Linked DNA regions of Homo sapiens: region 1 is linked to region 2. Evidence: fine-mapped expression QTL. A gene starts in region 2. The other region holds a variant in brackets. All regions are shown on one strand. Distances are between the middles of the regions. Region 1 overlaps EIF4G3 (eukaryotic translation initiation factor 4 gamma 3). Region 2 holds the start of EIF4G3 (eukaryotic translation initiation factor 4 gamma 3).

What was found. PIP is the estimated chance that this variant, and not a neighbour inherited with it, causes the effect. A credible set is the group of variants that fine-mapping cannot tell apart.
Region 1: its variant is the best candidate, but not a certain one, in a credible set for the expression of EIF4G3 in whole blood (INTERVAL, PIP 0.51).

What each region holds. Positions count from the first base shown.
Region 1 is chr1:21,069,277-21,073,364 of GRCh38, forward strand. The region is part of intron 3 of EIF4G3 (eukaryotic translation initiation factor 4 gamma 3); the gene reads right to left. Among named protein-coding and RNA genes, the nearest start is that of MIR1256, 83 kb to the left of the region's middle. The variant A/G (reference allele first, on the strand shown) is at 2,350.
Region 2 is chr1:21,175,108-21,179,107 of GRCh38, forward strand. It overlaps EIF4G3 (eukaryotic translation initiation factor 4 gamma 3), which reads right to left and starts at 1,790. Exons shown (of 37, transcript NM_001391906.1): 1 at 1,615-1,790; 2 at 1,068-1,251. RefSeq lists an enhancer at 1,705-1,754.

The DNA of each region.
Region 1 (4,088 bases), 110 kb before region 2:
AAGTACTTTTGCTTAATGAGAACCCAGAAAAACTATACCAGTAAATGTTACTACTTATTTACATATTTTTGTTCTCATTTACATAATCATTAATGTCTCTTCCTCACATTCCCACATGTACTTAAAACAACGTATCACCATCTTGCCTGGTAAAATGAGCACTCTTAAAGACAAGGATCATAGTGTCCACCACTGCTTTCTCACATTACCAGGCACAAAACCTTGCATATAGCTCTCATTCAATATATGTTTTCTAAATTAAGTTTATCTCAATATTCTTAAAAGCTCTGCAACATCTCCAATGTTTAGTCCCCTGGAAAAGCAAGCTCCAAGAGGCCAGAGGATCTTTCAGTTATTTTGTACTTAGGAAAACACAGAAAAGTAACTTCAAACACATTTTAGGCTGTCACAACAGGAAAGGCTGTTCTCTATTTAGAAAGAAAGGCCAAACAGAAAAAAGACTGAGTCTAACTCGTAGGAATTTTTACCGGGGGAGAGGAGGGGGTAGGAAAGCAGCAGCAGCATCTGGATTTCACAAATATTTGATGACACTGACTGTGAGGTTTGTCGAAAGAAAAGAGGATGAGCTAATCATGGGTAAGAATGAGATTTTTTTTGTTGTTTTACGTAAAAGGTGAGCACAGGAAGAATAGAGAAATGAAATATACTCAATCATGGTTATCTTATAAATCATTATAGAATTCAGTCAAAGATGATCTTTCAAAGTAATGCAAGACTTGAACTCAGCTAACTGTCCTATATTAAAATTTTGGAAAAATAAATTTAAGACCACAAAGGAAAACGGCAAGCCACAACTTATTACTGCTAATACAATATTATTTTTCAATAATCTAGGAAAATTTTAAGGCCACTGTGGAAAACCATTTGCATCTAGTGATTGAATCAGGATAGAATTATTACCAATTTGCATATCAGGCAGTGGCAACTAAGACTGTGGAAAAAAAAAGTTTGATGCTTACTTTCTCTAATTGCTACAATAATGTATAAACATGATTTTTGTTAAAAAAAAGAAAAAGTAGTGCCCTCTTTACCCTTCAAATCCCACTCCACTCCCTATGGCAAAATGATTAATACTCTGAAGCACATTATTACAAACCTTTCTATACACTTACAAATGTGTAAAAATAATAGCAACAACACAATAATAAATATTCAATGACATGTTTTCCTCTCCACTTATCAAAACATTAGAGATCTTTCCAAGTCAATAAACATACCTACTTCATTCTTGTTCTAAATGTTTAAGTAGTACTTCATGGTGTAGATATAACTACATTCTTCTTAACTATTAATTTTTTAAAACTCCTTAATGAAAAGAACTATATAACCTACTAACATTTTAAGAGCCAAACATGTATGTGCAAACATAAAATAAAAAACAAACTACCTTCTTTTTGCTAAGTTTCAGATATGTCAATTAATATAAATTGGAACCACCCAAAAACTGAAGAGAGGGCAGTTTTAGAATATCAAAGGTAAACTGACATTCCATAAACATTCTTGACAGCACAATAATAATTCTTAACTAGTAATAATAGACTGAATCTTTTTGTAAGTGTAAAAAGAAACTTCCAAAGAACTTGAAAGTGGACTAATTGATATTGTTGTCTAGTAAGTTCATTTTATTATATTTCATTCCATTTCTTGAGAGTAGGTACAACCGCTACCACCCCCTCATACCCTGCATACAATAGGTTCTTCAGTGCAAATGACTGATTTTCAACATTAGCTAATGCAATTCATATCAGATATAAAGAATAAATTGAAAATTCACATTAGCTTTAGTAGCCAAAATAAATGATTGATCTAATATAAGAAACATGTTAGCCAGGTGGCATGGCTCGTGCCTGTAATCTCAAAACCTTGAAAGGCTAAGGCAGGAGGATCATCTGAGGCCAGGAGTTCTAGACCAGCCTGGGCAACATAGTGAGATCCTGTCACTACAGAAAATGAAACAAAACAAAATTAGCCGGGCATGACGACATGCACCTGTAGTCCCAGCTACTTGGGAGGCTGAGGCAGGAAGATTGCTTGAGCCCAGGAGTTCAAAGTTAATTACAGTGAACTATGATCATGCTACCATGCTCCAGCCTGGACAACAGGGTGAGAACCTGTCTCCAAAAAACCAAAGAGAAACACATCCACTCCATGTAATCCTCCAGTGCAGTCCTGACACTCCACAGAAGGTTCCATAAATAAAAACTGTATCCACTACTACCATCTGCAAAAACTGGCATTTGAAAAGCACTTACACGGCCGGGCACGGTGGCTCACGCCTGTGATCCCAGCACTTTGGGAAGCCAAGGAAGGTGGATCACGAGGTCAGGC[A/G]TTGAAGACCAGCTTGACCAAAATACAAAAATTAGCCAGGCATGGTGGTGCGAGCCTGTAATCCCAGCTACTCAGGAGGCTGAGGCAGGAGAATCGCTTGAACCCAGGAGGCGGAGATTGCAGTGAGTCAAGATTGCGCCACTGCACTCCAGCCTAGGTGACAGAGCGAGGCTCCGTCTCAAAAAAAAAAAAAGAGAGAGAGGAAAAAAAAAGAAGAAGAAAAGCACTTAAACAGCTACTTCCCAAATGCTATTTTCCCAAATAAGTTAAAGACAGAGAGAGAGAAGTAGCTTTTAAACATAAAGTGACAATAATCTACAACTACACCTAGGCAACACTATTAAAATTATATTATTTCTACAAACAACTTCCTATGGGATTATTAAAAATGAACAATGGGTCTAATAATATGGCAACGGTTAAGTCAAAAGAGAAAATATATTTAACACATGGATAATTATACTACAAGTCTTTTATCCCTTAACTTCCTAAGTTTTGTATCATGTACATCTAGTAGTTTATTAAAGGAGTTTACTTTTCTAAGGTAATAAAGTTGGACATTCCAAGATGACAAATATATAATAAGTATTGATGATAAATACTAAAGTTTGAAAAGCAACACCACTGGCTGGGTGCAGTGGCTCATGCCGGTAATCCCAACACTTTGGGAGGCCAAGGTACAAGGATTCCTTGAGCCCAGGAGTTTGACGCCAGTGTGGGCAACATAGGGAGATCCCATGTCTATACAGAAAAAGACATTTAATTTTTTTATTTTATTTATTTATTTATTTATTTTGAGATGGAGTCTCACTCTGTCGCCAAGGCTGGAGTGCAGTGGTGCTATCTCGGCTCACTGCAAGTGCTGCCTCCCAGGTTCACGCCATTCTCCTGCCTCAGCCTCCTGAGCAGCTGGGACTACAGGTACCTGCCACCACGCCCGGCTAATTGTTTGTATTTTAGTAGAGACGGGGTTTCACTGTGTTAGCCAGGATGGTCTCGATCTCCTGACCTCGTGACCCGCCCGCCTCAGTATCCCAAAGTGCTGGGATTACAGGCGTGAGCCACCACGCCTAGCCTTTAATATTTTTTAAAAATAAAAAAGCAACACTATTGAAATGAAAGTCATAAGCGTTTTATCTAACACCACACTAAGCTTGTTCAGATTTCATATCAAATAAACGGTATGAATAGTTTCTTCATTGTAGTTGTAAGAATAGAATACTTACTGATGGTGGCAGCAGCTGCTGGTACATATCTGAGTGATGACTGTGTATCAAGCTCTAGGAGGTTTAAATGGATTTGTCTCATTTAACCTTCTTAAGAACCTTTGGAGATCAGCACTATTATTATCTCCATTTTACTCATGAGGAAGGAAACTGAGGTGCAAGAAACTTACCCAATGACACACACAGCTGCTAGTGGAAGCGCCAGGATCTGAATTCATTTGGTCAGATTCCAGAGCCACTTAGCTGCTCTTAACATTCTGCTCCCCATGTAACCTATAAACTCCAATTCATCTGCTAATAAATATGAGTATTTTCATGATTTAAATATTATGTCATTCCCTTAGTAGAAACTCTTCAACAGCTCCTTCTATACATCAGATAAAACCCAAATACTTTATCAAAATCTTACAAAATTACATGACCTAGATTTTGTCAGCCTCTAGAAGGGCATTTTCAAACGCCCTTGCAGCTATTCACATTTAAATTAATGAAAATTAAATAAAATTTAAAATT
Region 2 (4,000 bases):
AACACATCTAACATCCAATCATTATTTATTGATTTACACAAATACAGTGGGTGTAGGGAGGAGGTGATGCATGATGAAATGTTATTCTCAGGTACGCAATACCTTTCTAAATCTCCGTGGAATACATGAATTCAACGTTTTACCTTCACCGGCTAGTTTTTGACTAAAATACCCCATCACCAAGTCTTTTCAATCAAAGCTCTCCAAAATTCTACAATCGAGCAAATAACATGAAATTAGAAACATTCAATACTAGACTTTCCTCCAGAAGCCCTGGTAACTCTCTAGACATCAGGCCTATGAGGAGTAAATTAAAGCCCATTAAAAATATTCAGCCTAACACAAATCTTCCAAGAAGTGAGACTTTTGTGGGTGATGGGTAATGTCGGTGAACTTCCTCTTCCTTTAAAAAGGTCAAAGACAGGGAAGCGTCCGGCGTCACATTTCCTCCTCAGATCTCTACCACAAACCACATCACAACTCTCCCATTACTAAAAAAAATTATCCAGAGGAACTGCTTTCTGTACATTTTCACCTTAGACTGAAAATCCAACATACCTCGGAAACGAGCTGATTGGTTTCAAACAAGAAATTTACCGATAAAGTTTATTATGTACTAATAATAATTATGGAAGCCCACTGTGTCCCGCTGTAGGGGGAGCCGAGGGGAGGTGAAGAGCAGGAGGGTGTAATCCTCACAACAACCAGAGAAAAGCCTTCCCTGCAGGGTTGGTCCCAGGCACCAAGCAAATTCTGCCCAATAAAGGGGGGGAGGGTACCTTAGGGGAGGAGGGGAGAAGGGACCCCAAGCTCTAAAAGGAAGGGGCTGCAGAAGCATGGCCAAGTGGGGCTAGCTTTCACAGTATTGCAGAGGGTCTGGGGGTCCCCCCGCAGTGCTGCTGCCGGGGCACCCCAAAAGCTCCGCCCAAGCCCGATGCAGGGGCTTGAGCCGCTGTCCCTTTCCTGGCTGGGCTGTGGCGGCCGGCAGGAGGGTCCCCTGGGCTGCGGGGTCCCCCTGGACTGCGACGACGAGAACCGAAGGGCCGACAGGAAGGTGAAAAGGATACTGTTGGGGCGCCTGAGTCTGGAGGGCCCTGATGTTCGGGTGAGGAGGGGGGACCGCTGCCGCCGCCGCCGCCGCCGCCGCCGCCGCCGCCGCTGCTGCCGCCGCCGGGTGAGGAGGCGGTACCGCTGCTGCCGCCGCCGCCGCCGCTCCGGTGCCGGGTCCGGTTCCTGCTGCAGTCGCTGTGCCTGATTTCAGAGCCGGTTTCTGCGGTAAACTCATGGCAAAGCGAAGCCACCAACCCCCCCAGAGCGGGACCGGGCGCGCCGGGGTGCAGGGGCCGGGGGCAGCGGGGGGGCGGGATGGGGGCAGACCCGGGGAGGCGGCGGGAGCGGGGGGCTGGGGGGAGCCTGGGGGGAGGAGGAGGAGGGGGCCGGGGCCGGTCACACACGCCCGACGCCGCCGCCGCCGCCGCCGCCGCCTCCGCCGCCGCCGCCGCCGGCAGCAGCAGCCGCCCCGCGGGCCAGCACCACCGGCTGCCGGTCTCCGTGACAACGCGACCCCAGGGGGGGGGCCGGACCCGGCGGGGGCAGGAGGCGGAGAGACCGGACCTTTCACGGCAATATCCTCATGGGCCGGCGGCGGGGGATCTTTATCCCCCTCCCCGGAGGAAGCGGCGCCCTTCTCGGTAGCGGGGCTCAGGCGATGCCGGTGGATTTTCTTCACTCAACGAGCAGAGCATCCAACATGGCGCTGTGGCCGCCTCCAGCAGTCCGGCAGGACGGCTGCTCGGAAAACTTCGGACTTTTTCGGAATGGCTCGGGAAACCGAGGGTGGGAAGCCTCTTCGGCTCTTTCCGGAGACTGCTAGGGGTCGGGATTCTTCGGAGACGCTCGGGTGCGTCCTCGGCCGCCGTTCGGGAGGGCTCAGGGGCTAACTCGCTTCCTCGGCAAAGATCGGCGAGGGAGGCTTCGCTGGCTTACAGCGGCGCGGGTGCGGGGCGGAGGGAAAGACCAAAGGCGAGGTCTGGCTTGCGAGAGTCCTCCCCTGCGGCCCAGCCTCGAAGAACAATGGTAATGGCCCCGGAGTCGGCTGTTCGCTGAGCCCCGCTCGCAGGGGCGGAGAGGCAGCGGCGAGGCGAAAAACCCCTGGAGAAGGAACCGCTTAACCGGAATGGAACCCGTTGGATAGGGACCCCCCGCGGGGACTTCGCGTAACCAATGCCACCCGCCGGCCTGTAACCCACGCATTTCACACCCATTGTGTCGACACTTCCTCAGACGCTCTGAGAGGTGAATGAGGAGCCCCATTTCCAGAGGACACAGAGGAAAAGTGACTAGCCCAAGGTCACCCTATCGGGAAAGGACAGAGCCTAAATCTAAATGCCACCTTCATCTGGATGAACCTTGCCGCCTCCCATATTGGCTGGGGACATGACCTGAGCCGCCATATCTAATCAGCAGCCTTAACTGAGCTCTGTGGATGGATTCAAACCTAGGCCTTCCCCAGGACTGGAGCGCCCTTTGACCAGCAGCCAGTGATCAGCTCCCCAATGTCCTATGCTGGGTGACATTTGTTGATAAGGATTTTCTTCCCAGCTAGACCTGCCAAGATCACTCCCACCCCCAACCCCGCACACCCCACTCCTTAGCAGGTGCCTTGTCCTAAGCACAGTGGCATTGAGTGGGAAAGAATGGCAGGCATCGGCCGGGCGCGGTGGCTCACGCCTGTAATCCCAGCACTTTGGGAGGCCAAGGCCGGTGGATCACTTGAGGTCAGGAGTTCAAGACCAGCCTTGCCAACATGATGAAACCTCGTCTCTACTAAAAATACAAAAATTAGCCAGGCGTGGTGGCAGGCACCAGCTACTCGGGAGGCTGAGGCGGGAGAATCACTTGAACCCAGGAGGCGGAGGTTGCAGTGAGCTGAGAGAGTGCCATTGCACACTAGCCTGGGCGCGACAGAGTGAGGCTTCGTCTCAAAAAAAAAAAAAAAATGGCAGGCGTCATGGAGCAATCAAGTTTTAATATAATATTTACCAGACATGGCACTAAGCGCTGTACCCTTCATTATCTCAAGCAGTCCTGTGAAATAGGTAGTATCCATTTTACAAATGAATAAACTGAGACTGGGGAGGCTCAATACCATCAAACCACAGAAAAGCTGAGAAAATTGAGGCTCAAAACGCACAAAAGACTTCCCCGAGGTCGCACCGACAGTGTGGCTGGCAGAGCTAAGATTAGAGTCTAGTTCTGACTCCTGCTATCCTGCTTCACACACTGCCTTACTATTTTGTTGTTGCTGTTTTTTGAGACGGAGTTTCGCTCTTGTTGCCCAGGCTGGAGTGCAATGGCACGATCTCGGCTCACGGAAACCTCCGCCTCCCATGTTCAAGCGATTCTCTTGCCTCAGCCTCCCGAGTAGCTGGGATTAGAGGCATGCGCTACCACGCCTGGCTAATTTTGTACTTTTAGTAGAGACGGTGATTCTCCATGTTGGTCAGTCTGGTCTCAAACTCCCAACCTCAGGTGATCTGCCTGCCTCGGCCTCCCAAAGTGCTGGGATTACAGGCGTGAGCCACCGCGCCTGGCCTATTGTTGTTTTTAATTCATATAAAGCTCTACACATAGTGGATGCTTAATTCGTGACAATCCCTGGGAGCCCCAAATGCTCCTTCTAGGATAAAAGAGCATCTGAAAGAGAGTGATACCACAACCCCCCTACGGCGTCTTTCTAGCTAGAGCTCCACAGTTTCTGACATTGAAAAGGATGCCTCATCCCCATCTCCAGACTGGAAGACAGCAGCTACTTCATACTGTGGCATCTTAAACTGTCTGGATTTGTAACACCTGATTTTTTTATTTATTTATTTTTTTTTTTGAGACAGTCTCGTTCTGTCGCCCAGGCTGGAGTGCAGTGGCGCAATCTTGGCTCGCTGCAAGTTCTGCCTCCTGGGTTCACGCCATTCTCCTGCCTCAGTCTCCCAAGTAGCTGGGA